2 separate regions of the Homo sapiens genome follow, and region 1 is linked to region 2. Evidence: fine-mapped expression QTL. A gene starts in region 2. The other region holds a variant in brackets. All regions are shown on one strand. Distances are from middle to middle. Region 1 overlaps BAZ1B (bromodomain adjacent to zinc finger domain 1B). Region 2 holds the start of BAZ1B (bromodomain adjacent to zinc finger domain 1B).

The links. PIP is the estimated chance that this variant, and not a neighbour inherited with it, causes the effect.
Region 1: its variant is fine-mapped to the expression of BAZ1B in whole blood (TOPMed, PIP above 0.99).

What each region holds. Positions count from the first base shown.
Region 1 is chr7:73,440,030-73,448,358 of GRCh38, forward strand. It overlaps BAZ1B (bromodomain adjacent to zinc finger domain 1B), which reads right to left. Exons shown (of 20, transcript NM_032408.4): 16 at 7,235-7,350; 17 at 3,955-4,100; 18 at 2,696-2,799; 19 at 2,152-2,524; 20 at 377-1,664. The coding sequence ends at 2,167. Among named protein-coding and RNA genes, the nearest start is that of FZD9, 10 kb to the left of the region's middle. RefSeq lists an enhancer at 2,591-3,561. The variant G/T (reference allele first, on the strand shown) is at 4,124.
Region 2 is chr7:73,518,899-73,527,227 of GRCh38, forward strand. BAZ1B (bromodomain adjacent to zinc finger domain 1B) reads right to left here and starts at 3,395. Exons shown (of 20, transcript NM_032408.4): 1 at 2,929-3,395. The coding sequence starts at 3,035. RefSeq lists silencers at 2,639-3,518, 3,869-4,008 and enhancers at 3,579-3,738, 6,822-6,891.

The DNA.
Region 1 (8,329 bases), 79 kb before region 2:
GCGAGCTGAGACCACGCCACTGCATTCCAGCCTGGGTGATGGAGTGAGACTGTCCCCACCGCCCCCCTCCCCAAAATTTTTTTTCCCTGAGAAAGGTTTTAAAATGGCAGAATTTCCCCATAGTGAAGGCTTAAAAACCTATTTTCACCGTAATTCCTAGTTTCAAATGAAGTTTTTCAGGGTTTTAGACGGAGACAGGGCCAGGAGAGGCTTGGAGGGAGTACTTCTTTCTGTGGTTAAGAACACTGAGAGGCCCTGACTCTGGAGGCCAAGCCTTCAGAGGACCCGGCTCCAAGGGTCAGTGGGAAAGCAGCACTCGGGACAGCACTACCCACCCCCACCCACCAAGAAAGAGCACAAACAGCCACCAGAGTGGTTTCTTCTTTATAAACACAAGTACATGAGGTTTATTTGAAATTCCAATTTATTACAAGTTCACCCTTTAATGGGGCCCTTCCTCTTTGAAGACAATAAAAAAAAAAAACAACAACAAACAATTCAGGTGTCACTGAAGTGGGAACACAGGATTCTCACTATGAACAAGAACAGACTGGATGTAGGAGGCAGGGGAAGCTGGCGGTGGTGGGGTTATGAAGCTGTGATGTCAGTGCCAACTCCATGCCTATAGAAGGGACGGTAAACTACCCAGCAGCCCTGGAGCAATCCTCGTCGTCCTTGGGCAGGAGGACGGAGGAAGCAGAGGCCACATTCCGCAGTTTAAAATTAAGAGGCTTGATTCTCATGTTCTAGGAGCTGCAGTCCCCTTGGTGGACTTTAAATAGGTACAGAAGAGCTTGGGTGCTCAAAATTTCCAAATTCAAAGGTGATAAAAAAGAAAAACCCTGTTTTGTACTTTTATCAAAATCCATCATAAAAGGGAAAGAAGACTACAAAGTTTTGCCTAAATATAACAACTAGAGCTAGATTTGTTGTGGGGGAAGGGGCTCTCAGAGCTTCTCTGCCGCTCTCTCCTCCCACCCCCCACCGACACTGACCACTGGAATCTTCAGGTTCTTGAGGAGTTCCAAGGCTGAGGTCAGAACGGGCATGGGAGGCAGCAGACACAGCACTGCCCTGCTCCCCCTCCAATGTTGCTGCTTGCCTCAATGAGCCTCCAACCCAACTGCTCTAGAGGAGAGTGGATGGGCTGAAGGAGAAGCCAGGGAAGTTAGAGCAAACACATTATCATAGAAACTGTACTGTACATGTGCTAAAGCAAGATGTCAGGAGTATCTTACAAGATGTTCTTTATACAATATCACTGCTGAAACAAGCAACTTTTAATAACTAGAAAAGTCAATTTAAAAAAAAAATTAAACATTTAAATTCTTCCTGCTTTTCTTCTGCTCCCCTAAGAGCTTGACTGGTATGTGGGTGGGCTGGGCTCCAACACCCCTCTGGCCAGATCCATCAAAGTAAAGGTTATATGCATGATTATAAGCAGGACTCCAGTCTCTAAGTGAAGTGCCTTAGTTTTGTTTTTTTGTTTTTTGTGGTTTTTTTATTTTTTGGGGGGGTGGGAGGAGCTGTCACAAAGAAGGGGAGATTCAGGAATGGCTCCAGGACACGTCCCTTTACTCTGCCAAGATCAACTCAAAAGACCACAACTGTTTCATGATGCTGGTGAATACACAATTCTGTATGGCACTCACTGATACTGTCACCTGAGAGGAAGACGGGGGAAGAGACAGAGTATGGGCTTAAAGAAACAAGACTGTATAATAAATACAGATTAAAAAAGAAAAATCGCCACCATCTCCCCTGTTGGCCTGATTACCCCGATCCTGCTATGTAACACAGCAATCCCTCCCCTGGAGACCAGAGGGGCTTGGCACTGTGGTGGAAGCCAGAGCGAGCAGGCCCTTAGGAAAGAAGGCAGGAACAGGAACTGGCTTCACCAGAAAAGCTAGACCCTCGGACTCCTCCTGGAAACTCTCAGAAGGGAGGGTTATGGCCCTCTTTGTCCCTTCATATTTCTGGACAAAGACCACCAACCCAATATCAAGCCCCATAAAGAGCTTTTAGAAAAACAGCATAAGCTTGGGATGACAGGCGTTTCTGGACTCCCTGTGATCTCTTCCAGGTTCTTGGTCTTCCTCGCTCGCCTCCCTCCCACCCTCCCTAGCTGTCCCCCCACCTCAGCTCCCTTACCACGGCCCTGCCTCTCTACTTCTTCTGTCTTCGTCCCCTGGACTGTCCAACGGCCTCTGGCTCACTGTCCCCTTCATCTTCAGCAAGCCTATCAGGAAACTTCTTGCGCTTCCTGCGGACATATGGGTGGCCAGGAAGGTGTTTATGCAACAGAGCCACTAGACACTGTTCTGTCTTCACCATGCAGCTTAGCACATGGCTGCCACGGCAGTTGTAAACCTCAGCATTGGTAAACACTTGCTTCATGTCAGTAAGAAACTCCTGCACAGAGCGGTAGCTCCCACAGGAACATTTGTTCTGCACTGTCTGAAAGTCCATGGGGTGCGTGATCACATCATAGTAGTCCTCGGCCTCATCTCTGGTCACAGGCTCCCTGTGGAGAAGAACCAAATGGAGAATCTGCACAGCCTTGACGGCAGTGCCCCTGCCACTGAGACACGTCCTGAAAAGCAAGGGCTTGGCTGAGAGCCCCTCAGGGGCTCTGGAAGCTTTTAGAACCAGCCAGGCCACTCCTCTCCCCTGCACCTGAGAACACAGCACTCACCTGAAGGGCCAGCTGAAGCGGTACTTCACGATCTTGTGGAGGATCTCTTCACACTTCTGCAGCTCCAGGCTTTGCCTCCGGGAGCTCCGCTTGGTCTGAAGCACCTGGCAGGAAAGAAAGAACAATGTTATTACAGATTCAAGACAGGAGGAAGAATGGACAGGGCAGAAAATAAGTGTATCTGCTCAAAAAAGGAAGAGAGTTCAACTATTTCCTTGGCGCAGAGGTGCTGAAACCTTCTGATATTCAAGTCAGGGAGCACCCTCGGCCCAGGTGGCAGGCATCTTCCCAGTAGTCCACTCACTCGCCTCCCCCGGGGCCACGGCAATCAAAGCAGCAAAGAGCAGGCAGCGGGGGCCGCCTTTACCAGCAGTCCTGCTGGAGGTCGGCTGAAGGGGGCTACTGTCAACAGGACACTAGCTCTCAGAGAACAGGTGGACCTGGGGTTACAGTGACACCATGGAAGGGCATCAACAAGCCACTGCAGAAAGCAAAACATGCTATCTGGGCCAACAGCAGCCAATTCTGTGGGGGTGGGGTGCCTCTGGTAAGAAAAGCAAGAGGTCCAATTCCCTTCCTGGGCTCTTCCACCGTAGACATGTGAGGGTTAAGTGGCTAAAGAGAAAAGGGGCGGGGCCTCCATTCCAGGTAGCCATAACAAAAGCTGTGATTCACAGCAGAGGCCACAGAGCCCAAGGCTGTGGCAAACCGAGCATCTTCTAATGCCTTATGATCTCCCAAATGGCCTGCCTTAAGCCCCTAACTCCAATTTGATCTGTCAAAACAAGCACCTTTTCAAGAGTTTCTTTTTTGTTCTTTAAAGCTCAAGTGAGATCTAAAAACTACTAAAATTACATTGGTTAAGGAGCAGAGGGGAGGGTAATGTCCCTCCCATAACAACTGTCGACTCAACAGTAAGTGAGGCTCCAGCATTGCTGACATTCCCACAATGAAGACCCAGCCCCTCTGAGCCCACTGGAGACACATGGATACTATTTTTAAATCCTTAATAAGTTGCAGGCTGCCCGCTAACTAGTTTGCAGGCTACAGCAGGGGAATGCCGGACATAGCTGTTCCTGGAGGCCTTGCTGCTTCTGTCTGCGTACAGGCTCACCCATCTGCCTCCCCAGCCTCCCAAGTTTGGTAAGAAGGAGGAGGGGGGAGGCTCCCCTCCCACCTGTTGCCTGATGAATTCCTAATTGCTGGGGTAGGGAATAAGAAACAGAAAGGTTAGAGAAGGGATGATAAATAATTCTCACCAGCTCATCCACCTCAGCATCATCCACAGGTGGTGCCTTGGGCTGAGACCTCCTGGTAGAGTGTGGCTTCTTACCCGGGCGCCGGCCTGACCTTGCTGCAGGGGGGATGACGCTGTGCTTGCCCCGGATGGTCTTTCGAGGTCTCACTGAAAGAAAAACTATGGATTCA[G/T]CAGAGAACAACGGAAGGTGAAGGGAGGAGCATCTTCGAAATGGGGGAAAGGGATGCAGGGAGAATCCTTTTCCTGGACAAGGAAAGCAGTGGCCTCCTTTGGTTTTAAGGTGCTCTTGCTATTTTATCTTGCCTTACCTAACAGGACACTAAAAGGCAGTGGCAGCCGATGAAGAATGGGTGCCTTTCATCCACTGCCAAAGCCCTTCAGAGGGCTAGGTCCTTCAGTACTTCTGTCCTGCCCCGTCCTGCAGTTACTCCCAGCCATAAGGCCCCTGCAGGAATCAACTGTAAACTCTCACTCATGAGAAGCCATTTGCTAATAGGTCAGCCTGGATTTCCCACAGCCCAAGCTCAGCCTGAGCGAGTGGATGTATTTACATGTAAGATGGAACTGGATTGTAAAACAAACCCTATGTTGTAATTCCCAGAGTTATTCTACACTTACCATCAGAATCTTTCCAGAGAAAAGCTGGTACTTCCATGAAGGGCCACAAGGCTCCTCATTAAATACAATTTAGGGCTAGTCCCCTCCATAAGAGCCCTGCCCAGGATCCCCAATGAGAGAATAAAGAATATAGGCCGGGCGTTGTGGCTCACACATGTAATCCCACCACTTTAGGAGGCTGAGGCAGGTGGATCACCTGAGGTCGGGAGTTCAAGACCAGCCTGACCAACATGGTGAAACCCCGTCTCTACTAAAAATACAAAATTAGCAGGGCGTGGTGGCACATGCTGGTAATCCCAGCTACTCAGGAGGCTGAGGCAGGAAAATCGCTTGAACCTGGGAGGCGGAGGTTGCAGTGAGCCGAGATCACGCCACTGCACTCCAGCCTGGGAAACAAGGGTGTAACTCCATCTCACAAAAGAAAAAAAACACACACACACACACACACAAAGGCACTGAGACTACTTGTGTCTCAGGTTTACAACAGGTGCTCACCATCAAGCCAACTGGCATTCCTCAGTGAGCCCTGGGAAACAATGCCATGAGGATTTAGCTCCAGGCTCTCCACCACCTTCCCTTGGGGAGTGGGGAGATGACACTGGACACAGAGGTCTAGGAAGGCAGTGACACGAATAATCCAGAAACACTACTTTCCATTCTATTTCTGGATCACGATAACCCTTTCTTGGCTACTTTAGCGTCTCTAGCTCAAGCCCAGGCTAGTAAGAAAGGGTAAGAATCTGATGCTTAGGTGCTAGAACCTTGAGCTGCACTGGGGAACCACATCTTTGGTGGTCTGAAAGATAGAGTTGACAAAAAGCTCTGAAGTACCAAATACTTCCCAGATCCTTTTGGCAAGTCGAGGCCGTAAAAACTTAGAAAAGCAATTCCTTGGAAAGAGAGCTACAACGTAGAAGTGGAAAGCAATCACTAGCTTACAAATAAACAGAATCAGTATACTACCATATTCAGGATCTGCCCTCAGAGAGATCAGGCGCAGTGGCTCACACTTGTAATCCCAGCACTTCGGGAGGCCAAGGCAGGAGGATCACTTGAACCCAAGAGTTCAAGACCAGCCTGGGAAACATGGCAAGACCCTATCTCTACAAAAAAGCCGGGCATGGTGGCACGTGCCTGTAGTCCCAGCTGCTCAGGAGGCTGAGGTAAGGAGGATTGCTTAAGCCTGAGAGATCGAGGATACAGTGAGCAGTGATCATACCAGTGCACTCTAGCCTGGGCAACAGAGAAAGATACCCATCCCCCGCTCCGCCAAAAAAAATATGTTCCCAAACAAAGGTGTGCCCAAGTCACTGACTCTGACCAACAGAAGAGGATATTCCTGAATGCAGGACTGATGGGCCATTTGTTCACTTACCCTAGGATACCTGAAAAATCAGGCGTAGTGAACAAACAAAAAGAGCCCATACGTATGTGAGAGCTTAAGGTGTCCCACATCACACCTCTGAAGTATGGGGGGGAAAGTGGGAGGACAGGAGAAGACGGGCAAGCCCAAATCATTAGGTTTTGGCAGTCTCACTACAGTAAGAGACTAGTCATGCCAGGCATCCTCTCTCTCACTCCTTATACCAAGTATGACCATTCAGAGCTGCTATGATCTTGGGAACTGTACCACTGCTTCAAAAGCTCATTAGAATTTTGATCTGTGGTCTGTTTTCTACGAACCTGTAAAGAAAAGTGTATTGGCCGGGCATAGTGGCTTATGCCTGTAATCCCAGCACTTTGGGAGGCCAAGGCAGGCAGATCACTTGAGCTCAGGAGTTCGAGACCAGCCTGGCCAACATGGTGAAACTCCATCTCTACTAAAAATACAAAAATCAGCCAGGTGTGGTGGTGGGTGTCTGTATACTCGGGAGGCTGAGGCAGAGACTGAGGTAATCTGAGGTCATACCACTGCACTCCAGCCCAGGCGACAGTGAGACCATCTCAAAAAAAAAAAAAAAAAAAAAAAAGTGTATTTTGGAAAGAGGGAGGCTGCTAAAAGAAAGGCTAGACTGGAGGACATTAGCCACAAACACCAGACTCTCCAACACTCATGAGAAATGAACATGAGAGAATGAGAGTCAATGCGGTGAACACAAAAGATGATGCCTTTTTTCCTACTGGCATCTAGTGAGAACAGATCTGAATCTTCCTAACATCCTTCCACCTAAGCCTTCAAATAATCAGTCGTCTCTTTTCAAACCAGCAAAGCTATAACCCTGCACACTGCAGGGAGGAGAAAATCACTGTAACCAGACAGAAAAAGTCACTCTCTGAAAGCAGCGATAAAACAACAGCCAAAAGAACTGTCAGGAGATGGCAATGGGCCAAGATCTTCCTTCCCCATTGTCCCCATATGCCGAGGAGCTGAGAATCAGCAGCCTTGGCATAAATATACTTGGGACCATGAATTCTACTAAATCTTAGAGCAAGTGGGTTGATGTTACTGAGATCAAGCCACCTTCTCTCCCACCAGGCAGGAAGTTAAACGCCATCTTGGAAACCCATTTAAACCCATGGCAGCTAAGTTACGCCACAGTCACAACACAAGAGAAAAGGAATAGGGCAAGCCGGCCACACTACCTACTGCCAAGCCAGCCTTTCCAAGCGTTCCAAGCTTAGAAGACTGTGAAATCAACTACAAAGGCAGACAAAATACTTACATCGCAAACCAGCCACCTCATAATCTTCTTCCTCCTCCTCCTCTTCTTCCTCCTCCTCCTCTTCATCACTCTCATCATCTTCACTGTCCTCAGAAGCAGACTCTTCAGTATAGTTCCTGTGGGTAGAAAAAATAATGTAGGGAACACAGTTTTAGCCCAAAGTGGTCCTAAGAAGGGCTCAAATCCCACAGGGATCAGGAAACTTCTCTTCACAGACTACATATGTATAACGTATGATAATTCAGGGAGGGAACCTGAATGTAAGCCAGGAGAGTTTTTCATAAAAATGAAAAACCAAGTTTCAACAGCATGCCTCATGCCTCCTTCTGCCAGGCCACAGACAGTTTGGACAAGATACCAAAGGCAACAGAAATTAAGACCAAAATGCAATCCTACCCTTCCCCACACAAAGCAATACAAAACACTGTTTCTTTTGTCTCACAAAAAGAGCCAGATAATGTAATACATCAGTTACTAAAAGCTGTCCCCACCTCTGAGGTAGACTGAAAAGAATAAACAGAGCCCAGACAGGTGTGACTTCACCTTGATGGCCCCCTTCCAGGAGCTGAAACAGCTTGCAGATGACCATAATATCAAAGCAGTGGTAATCCCAGCTCGGAACAGCTGGTCCAAAGCCCCACCATTTCAGAGCAACATGTCTCATCTCTAAGTGCAGCTGGGATGGAGTGCAAAAGAACCTGCTAATACTGTTAAGGTGGGGTCAGGATCAAACAGCTCTGCCCCTTAGAAGGAAGCCCAGGCCGGGCACCGTGGCTCACGCCTGTAATCCCAGCACTTTGGGAGGCTGAGGCAGGCGGATCACCTAAGGTCGGGAGTTCGAGACTAGCCTGACCAACATGGAGAAACCCCATCTCTACTAAAAATACAAAATGAGCTGGGTGTGGTGGCGCATGCTTGTAGTCCTAGCTACTCGGGAGGCTGAGGCAGCAGAATCGCTTGAACCTGGGAGGTGGAAGTTACAGTGAGCCGAGATCGCGCCATCGTACTCCAGCCTGGGCAACAAGAGCGAAACTCCGTCTCAAAAAAGAAGCCCAAGCCAGAGTACCTATAAGCTGCACATTTTACAACCCCAAA
Region 2 (8,329 bases):
ACAACACGCTGCTTGTAGCTCCAATTCCTGCCTAAAACCTATCTTGACTTAAATACAGTCAGTGTCACATCAAGAACTGATTCTGATAAAGTTAGTGTTTTCCAAGATCTAGTGTCCTGCCTGTGGGAATACCTTAGGAAGTAATGTACCATACAAAGCTACAGTACAATCAACATAATCACCAATATTTAACACCTAGTCATTAAATGTGTGCATTACTCACAACTTCCACTAAGTTTAATGAAGATTCACAATATACTCCAAGAACATACCAACATACAGCTTTAAGTCAGTAAAATATCACACAAAGTTCTGTGATACATGCAATCAAAAGGTAGGTATTAAAAGAAAATTAAAATATCAAGTCCCATTAAAAACATAATTGTAAATATAAGTTGAGAACTGGGAATACTACTTCAAAGGCAGCTGTTACCTAACCACATATTTGTTCTCCTCTATGAAACCACTAATAGCCTAATAAAGAAATATGCCAATCTGCCAACCATACAGTACAATTGTTTAAAAACCATCCTCAAAGTGCTTCCACTTGCAGAAATTCCCGAAAGAGCAATTTCCCCCCAATATATAATATGTTTTAAGACTTCTTTTGTTAAAACAGTTTTAAATGCTGTTATGGGAAATTAAAAAATGAAGAATGTTTATTAAATACATACCACTTAAAATGTTTCCGGTTTCAGTTTTAAATTGTTACCATCAAAACTCTTCATATATATATTTCAATTTCATTCATTCAATAATATGAAAAAGCCTGCGTTGCCAGTCCTAAATTAACTTCCTACAGCCATTTTTTACATAGCTCAGTACCTGAAATATACTTAGAAATTGTCTCTTCTCTATGGCATGTTTCTTATACTCTGCTAGAACCAGACCTGAGAAAGTATCATCTGAAAGTGTGTGAGCATCCATCAACGGCTCAAAACATTAATGACATTGGAAAAGTATATGTCGGATTCTCACAAGTTGCTACTCCACTGCCGATTCGAATGTATTAAAAAGTAGGGTACTGGCCAGGCGCGGTGGCTCACGCCTGTTAATCCCAGTACTTTGGGAGGCCGAGATGGGCGGATCACCTGAGGTCAGGAGTTTGAGACCAGCCTGGCCAACATGGTAAAACCCCATCTCTACTAAAAACACAAAAAGTTAGCCGGGCGTGGTGGCACGCGCCTGTAATCCTAGCTACTCAGGAGGCTGAGGCAGGAGAATCACTTGAACCCTGGAGGCGGAGATGGCAGTGAGCCCAGATCGTGCCACTGCACTGCCACCTGGGTTAACAAGAGGGAAACTCCGTCTCAAAAAAAAAAAAAAAAAAAAGTGGGGTACTTCGGTATAATGCAGTATTTGGTAGAGCTAGTGGAACTTCTCCAGAACATTCCAAGTCTTCACAGGACAAGAAAAAAACCAGATCACCACCCCTCCACTTTAAAGTGCCTTACCTTATACCATAATGACAAAAAAGTGAGGTAATATTTAAATTAATTGAAAGTGAAGGAGTAACATTCCACCTTCTTCTGTTGATTGACTTACAGGGATGAGGTAGGAAGAGCGGTGGATTCTACTCCTCTTTCATCATTTGACCTTCAACAAGTCAACCTCCACTCTCTGGGCCAACTCAGCAAACCAAGCCCGAGGACCCGACCACCTCCAAGATCCACTTCAGCTCCAAGATGCTACAGCTCTATTTCTCCAAGAGCCTTCCTCCAGCATGGACTGATTTTCCAGGCCCCTTTGTGTGTATACTCCCCACAAAGGGACACTCACAAATTGCACTCCAACAAGAATGAGATTATCCTCTAAAGTACTGCGTTAAAGTGAGGATCAGGGAGAAATGAAATAACTCTGAGAGACACTTCCTCCTATACAGAAGCAAGCAAGAAACTGAGAAATGAAGTCCTTCCGAACAGAAGGGGCTGAGAAAACTCATAACACATTAGCCTTCACTCTTAAAGCTTTCAGTCACCAAAGAAATGCTTGATTCCGAAATCGTTTTTGTTTTTTTTACAGATAAGCCTCAAAAACGATTCTTCTGGCACCCATTAAAAAAAAGCAAATAAAAGCTGCACAACTTTTCACTAAAAGATAATGCTTATGCAAGAAATCTTAGTCATGACGAGAGGATGCTTCCTTTGTAAAACATCCAATTTCATGTTCCTAAAATACAACATAAAAACTTCACGTCTTGGTTTTTTTGTTTGTTTAATTTTAACAAATACCAATCTCCTTCTAAACCTTCAAAATTTCAAACCTGTGTCTGCCCAGGGAAGGCAGGCATCAGCTCCTCCACAGGCAGTTTCCTTCCCTCCCTTTCCTCTAAGCGGGGAATCTCATTCCTAGTTTTCTGCCCCAGGGTCCTGTCAGTTCATCCCCGGCCTAAAGTCCCCTCGGGAGACGAAAAAAACGCCAAGTATCCCCGCAGAGATCGGGGTAAGACGCAGTTGAGTCTTGCACACGCCGCATCACGAGGCCGCGCGAGTACAATTTCAAAACTTAAGCTGCAGGTTTCATTTAAATTTTTAAAAAATTTTTGTAAAAATTAAAGGAGAAAACCTAGCTCCCCCTCCCCACGCCTCCTCCTCCCTCTCGGGTCCTCAAGGCCTAAAGCCAACCCGGGGAAGGTAATGGGGATGGGGGATGCGCTCCTCGCCGGCGAGGCCCCGGGACAAAGTGCGGGGCCCCGGGGGCGGCCGAAGCGGGCCCTTCTCCTTCCAGGGCCGGTGCGCGCCCCCCGCCGGATCCCCTGGAAGGATCGGCGGGCGCAGGCTGAGACTCAGCCTCCAGGCCCGCGAGCGGCCGGGGCGCGCTGACAGCTGCCCCGGGCCGGGGATGCGCGGCTGACCTGGTCTCGCGAGCCCCAGGCCCTACCCCGGCCCAGCCCGGCCCAGCCCGGCCCGCGCGGCTGGAAAAGGATACTCCCGGGTGCGGAAGGCCTCCTGAGTGTGCGGGATGGTGAAGAGCGGCTCCTCTCCGGGCAACGGCTTCACCAGCGGGAAGGGCTTGCGGCCCAGGAGCGGCGCCATCGCGGCGGCGGCGGTGGGGACTGGCGGCTGCTGGGGCCGGCCCCGCGGCGCAGCACTAGGCCCCGCGGCCCGGAGCGAGCGCCAGGCGCCCGGGGGTGGGGTGGGGGAAGGGAGGGGTGAGAGGGCGGCGCGAACTCCGGCTCCCTCACCGCCGGCGCGGCCGCGCGACAGTCATGGAGCGGAACGCCACGGCGCAGAGCTCCCGCGCACACCGCCGCGCCTCCCAGCAGCCCCCCGCCGACCTCCGCTTCGGGTCCCGGCGGCCGGCAGTCACGACTCCTCCTCAGCAGCACCGGAGGAAATTATTGAAAAATGGCGGGAGATTCCCCTCCTCCCCCGGGCCCGGCCAACGCACACACTAACTTGCTCCCCCGTGGCGCCGGTGGCGAATGCTCCAATAGGCGGAGAGCTGGTCAGCGCTCACAGCCTATTGGCTCGGAGGAGCTGCCGCTCCGCGCCTGGGTCCCGCCCCCCTGCCCCTGTCGCGTAGTTGGGTTGCAGCGCACTAGAGGGCAGTCTGAAGAGGTGAAAGGTCACGTTATGTAAGCGCCCGTGATAGGCGTGCGGGCCTCCGACGGCAGAGTTAAAAGTGGGGGACAGCGGGGGATGGAGAGGACGAGAACTCAAAGAGGTCAAGCCGGAGAAGCCCCTCGCATATACAGATACTGCGCCATCTGTCACCGACGGCGACACCGACATCCGGGCACCACTGTCCGTGTGGTGCGCCGGAGGGGGAGGGTGAGCGCGCGGCCAGGGGCTTTGTCTTTCCTCTTGGGCGCCTCCCCCTTCTTAAAGGCGCCGTGCTCGGCCACGCCCGGGGATGCGCGGGTGGGGCTGGGCTGCAGGGAGGGGTTGGCGGGAAGTGGCCCCGGGAGCTTACCCTACCAAAGGTTCTGCGGAAGGACAACGTGGGGGCCAGCTTTGCTCACCCCAGAGTTAACTTCTGGGCGGGAGTGTGGTTGAGATCTGGGTAGAAGTATACTGCTTGTTTCTAGGGGCTGGCTGGAAAGTAGAATATAGAAGCTTCTTTGGAGAAATAGATTAAAAGACGTACTTAGTTTTTTGGTTTTTGGTTTTTGTTTTTTTTGAGACGGAGTCTCGCTCTGTCGCCCAGGCTGGAGGGCAATGGCGCGATATCGGCTCACCGCAACCTCCGCCTCCCGGGTTCAAGAGATTCTCCTGCCTCAGCCTCCCAAGTAGCTGGAATTACTGGCGTGCACCACCACGCCCGGCCAATTTTGTATTATTAGTAGAGACGGGGCTTCTCCATGTTGGTCAGGCTGGTCTCAAACTCCCGACTTCAGGTGATCCGACCGCCTAGGCCTCCCAAAATTATCATTATTTTTTTTTTTGAGACGGAGTTTCACTCTTGTTGCCCAGGCTGGAGTGCAGTGGTGCAGTCTCGGCTCACTGCAACCTCTCCCTCCCGGGTTCAAGCTATTCTCTTGCCTCGGCCTCCCGAGTAGCTGGGACTACAGGTGCGCGCCACCACACCCGGCTATTTTTTGTATTTTGTAGAGACGGGGTTTCACCATGTTGGTCAGGCTGGTCTCGGACTCCTGATCTCAGGTGATCCACCCGCCTCGGCCTCCCAAAGTGTTGGGATTACAGGCGTGAGCCACCACGCCCTGCCAGAGCTGTGACTCTGGCTTTTTTTTTTTTTCTCCCATGATACTCAGCACCTGGCTCGGAACATTGTAGGTGCTAGTGAATACTATTTGAATGAATTGGATCTACCTTTTATTTTTTATTTTTTTTGTAGAGACAGGGTCTTACTTTGTTGCCCAGACTGGTCTCGAACTCTTGGCCTCAAGCAATTGTCCCGCCTCTGCCTCCCAAAGTGCTGAGATTAGGCGTGACCCACTGTGCCCAGCCAGGATGTCTCTTTAATAGGTACGTCTGGGCCGGGCGCAGTGGCTCACCCCTGTAATCCCAGCACTTTGGGAGGCCGAGGCGGGCGGATCACGGGGTCAGGAGATGGAGACCATCCTGGCTAACACGGTGAAACCCCGTCTCTACTAAAAATACAAAAAATTAGCCAGGCGTGGTGGCGGGTGCCTGTAGTCCCAGCTACTGGGAAGCTGAGGCAGAATGGCGTGAACCCGGGAGGTGGAGCTTGGAGTGAGCGGAGATCGTGCCACTGCACTCCAGCCTGGGCGACAGAGCGAGACTCCGTCTCAGGGAGGCGGGGGGGGGGGGGAAATAGGTACGTTTGGTCGGGCACGATGGCTCACGCCTGTAATCCCAGCATTTTGGGAGGCTGAGGCGGGCGCCTCACCTGAGCTCGGGAGTTCGAAACCAGCCTGAGCACCATGGAGAAACCCTGTCTCTACTAAAAATACAAAATTAGCCGGGCGTGGTGGCGCATGCCTGTAATCCCAGCTATTCGAGAGGCTGAGGCAGGAGAATCGCTTGAATCCGAGAGGGGGTGGTTGCGGTGAGCCGAGTTTGTGCTATTGCGCTCCAGCCTGGGCAACAAGAGCAAAACTCCGTCTCAAAAATTATAATAATAATCACAGTTCTATACAAAGTGCAGAATAAGAAAATAGCATCAACTATTTTAATGCTATTAAATGGGGAGCATTTCAGTTGCTTCTCCAAGCAGACAACACCCACATCCAGAATTTGTTTGGCTTTCCAGTACAATCAAAAACACACTCATTAAGTTATCTCCCTATTAAACTGTCTCCCTTAGTTTAAAGAACTTCACTTTAAAGTTTCCCAGCCTGTACCTTCCCAGCTGTACCTTCCCAGCCTGTCCTTCAACGGGGCTAGACTGCGAGGTGTCTCTAAATGCAGTCTCCTAATGTCAGACCTCTATCTCCTTTTCTTCTCACCTCAAGGATCTCCTATCCCCACTAGGAGGTCTAGGTCAAAAGCTACCTCTGTGAAGTTTCCTCTGATCACCTAGCAGAAAAGATCTCGGTTCCTTTTCCTTGAGGCAGTAGACTTTTCTCCCAAGAACAGCAGGAGAAGCCTTGCCAGAGCACATAGCGTTTGAGTTAATTGAGAAAAGAAAAGAGTTCTCTAGACAGAGAAGGAGGGACGAACATTATAGACAGAACAGCAGAGTGAAGCCTGGAAGTTCAAGATCGTGTGCCCAAAATGTGAGGATTTGAGGCAGAATATATCAGATGAGAATGGTAAAGGAAGTGACCATCCTGATATATTCTGTAATGGCTGAATCGGAGTGACTACTTAGAAGGGAATTACAGGGCTAGGCATGGTGGCTCACACCTGTAATCTCAGCACTTTGGGAGGCTGAGGAGAGAGGATACTTTGCGGCCAAGAGTTTGAGACAAGTCTAGGCAACATGGCAAAACCCCGTCTCTGCTAAAAATACAAAAATCAGCCGGGCGTGGTGGCGCATACCTGTAATCCCAGCTACTTGGGAGGCTGAGGCAGGAGAATTGCTTGAACCCGGGAGGCAGAGGTTGCAGTGAGCTGAGATGGTGCCCAGTCTGGGCGATAAAGCGAAATTCCATCTCAAAAAAAAAAAAAAAAAAGCAAAAGAAAACAATTTGATATTTCAGAACAGCATCTCACTTTGCACATGTGAACTGGGCACCATAATCATTTCAGCGCTTGGGTCCGCTGTGGGCTAGAATCCATTGCTGGGATTGGTGAAGATGGGATCTGAGATGGGAAAATCGGTAATGGGCTTGGTTTCAGCCATGTGAACTCCAGGTACCCTGAAGAGCCATCCAGAACACAGCCGGAAATTCTGAGGGAGGAAGTGGGAGCTGGAGGTGGGGCTTGGTGGTCACAGTACAGAAACTTGAGCTTCAGGAACCATATAGAGCTTATGAAGAGACCCCAAATAAAGAACAGTGCTCATCTCGGGGAAATGGATTTATGGTTTTTGCGTTTTGTCTCATTTTGAGACAAGATCTTGCACTGTCGCCCAGGCTGGAGTGAGTGCAGTGGGGGATCACAGCTCACTGCAACCTCGACCTCCTGGACTCAAGATCCTCAGCCTCCAGAGTAGCTGGGACTACAGGCACACACCACCATGTCCTGCTAAGTATTTTCTTTTTTGTAGAGACGGTGACGGGGATGGGGTCTCACTGTGTTGCCCAGGCTGGCCTCAAGCCCCTGGCCTCAAGGTTTCCTCCCTCCTCAGCCTGTCAAAGTGCTGGGATTACAGGCATAAGCCACCGCACCAGGCCTGGAATTACAATTTTTTTTCTTTTCTTTTTTTTCACCCCTCCTTTTTCACTGGAATTACAATTGATGTGATTTTCTTCTTTATATTTTTCTATATTTTATGATTATGTTTTTATAATGACTACATTATTAGTTTGTTTTTGAGATAGGGTCTCACTCTGTTGCCCAGGCTGGAGTGCAGTTGCACAATCTCAACTCACTGCAACGTCCACCTCCCAGGCTCAAGTGATCCTCCCACCTCAGCCTCCCAAATAGCTGGGACCACAGGCACACAACACCATGCCCAGCTCTTTTTTTGTGTTTTTGGCAGAGACAGGGTCTCACCATGTTGCCCAGGATGGTCTCAAATTCCTGAGCTCAAATGATCCACCCACCTAAGCCTCCCAAACTGCCAGGATTACAAGCGTGAGCCACCACTCCTGGCTCTTTTTCTTTCTTTCTTTTTTAAAATACATTTTAAAAACTATTTTAGGCCGGGCAGGGGTGGATCATGCCTGTAATCCCAGCACTTTGGGAGGCCGAGGCGGGCAAATCACGAGGTCAGGAGTTGGAGACCAGCCCGGCCAATATGGTGAAACCCTGTCTGGCTCTACTAAAAATATAAAAATTTAGCTGGGTGTGGTGGTGTGTGCCTGTAGTCCCAGCTACTCGGGAGACTGAGGCAGGAGAATCGCTTGAACCCAGAAGGCGGAGGTTGCAATGAGCCGAGATCGCGCCACTGCACTCCTGCCTGGGTGACAGAATGAGACTCCATCTAAAAAAAAAAAAATATATATATATATATATATATATATTTTAATAAAGACACGTCTCACTATATATTGCCTGGGCTATTCTCAAACTCCTGCCTCCTGGGCTCAAATGATCCTCTCACTCTGGCCTCCCAAAGTGCTGTAATTACAGTCATGAGCCACCGCACCTGGCCCTGGTTTTATTTCTCTTAATGGCTTCGCCTTCCTGTTTAGCCCACAGGCTCAGCCTCTGACCTCTCTCTTGAGCTCCACAGCCTCAGGGGCAACTAGATAACATCCATTCTAGCAGCCTAAAATCTTGAACTGTTTCCCCTTCCTGTCTTTCCACAGCACCTGCTTCAGGCCTTTATTATTTCTGCCCAAAATTGCTATGAT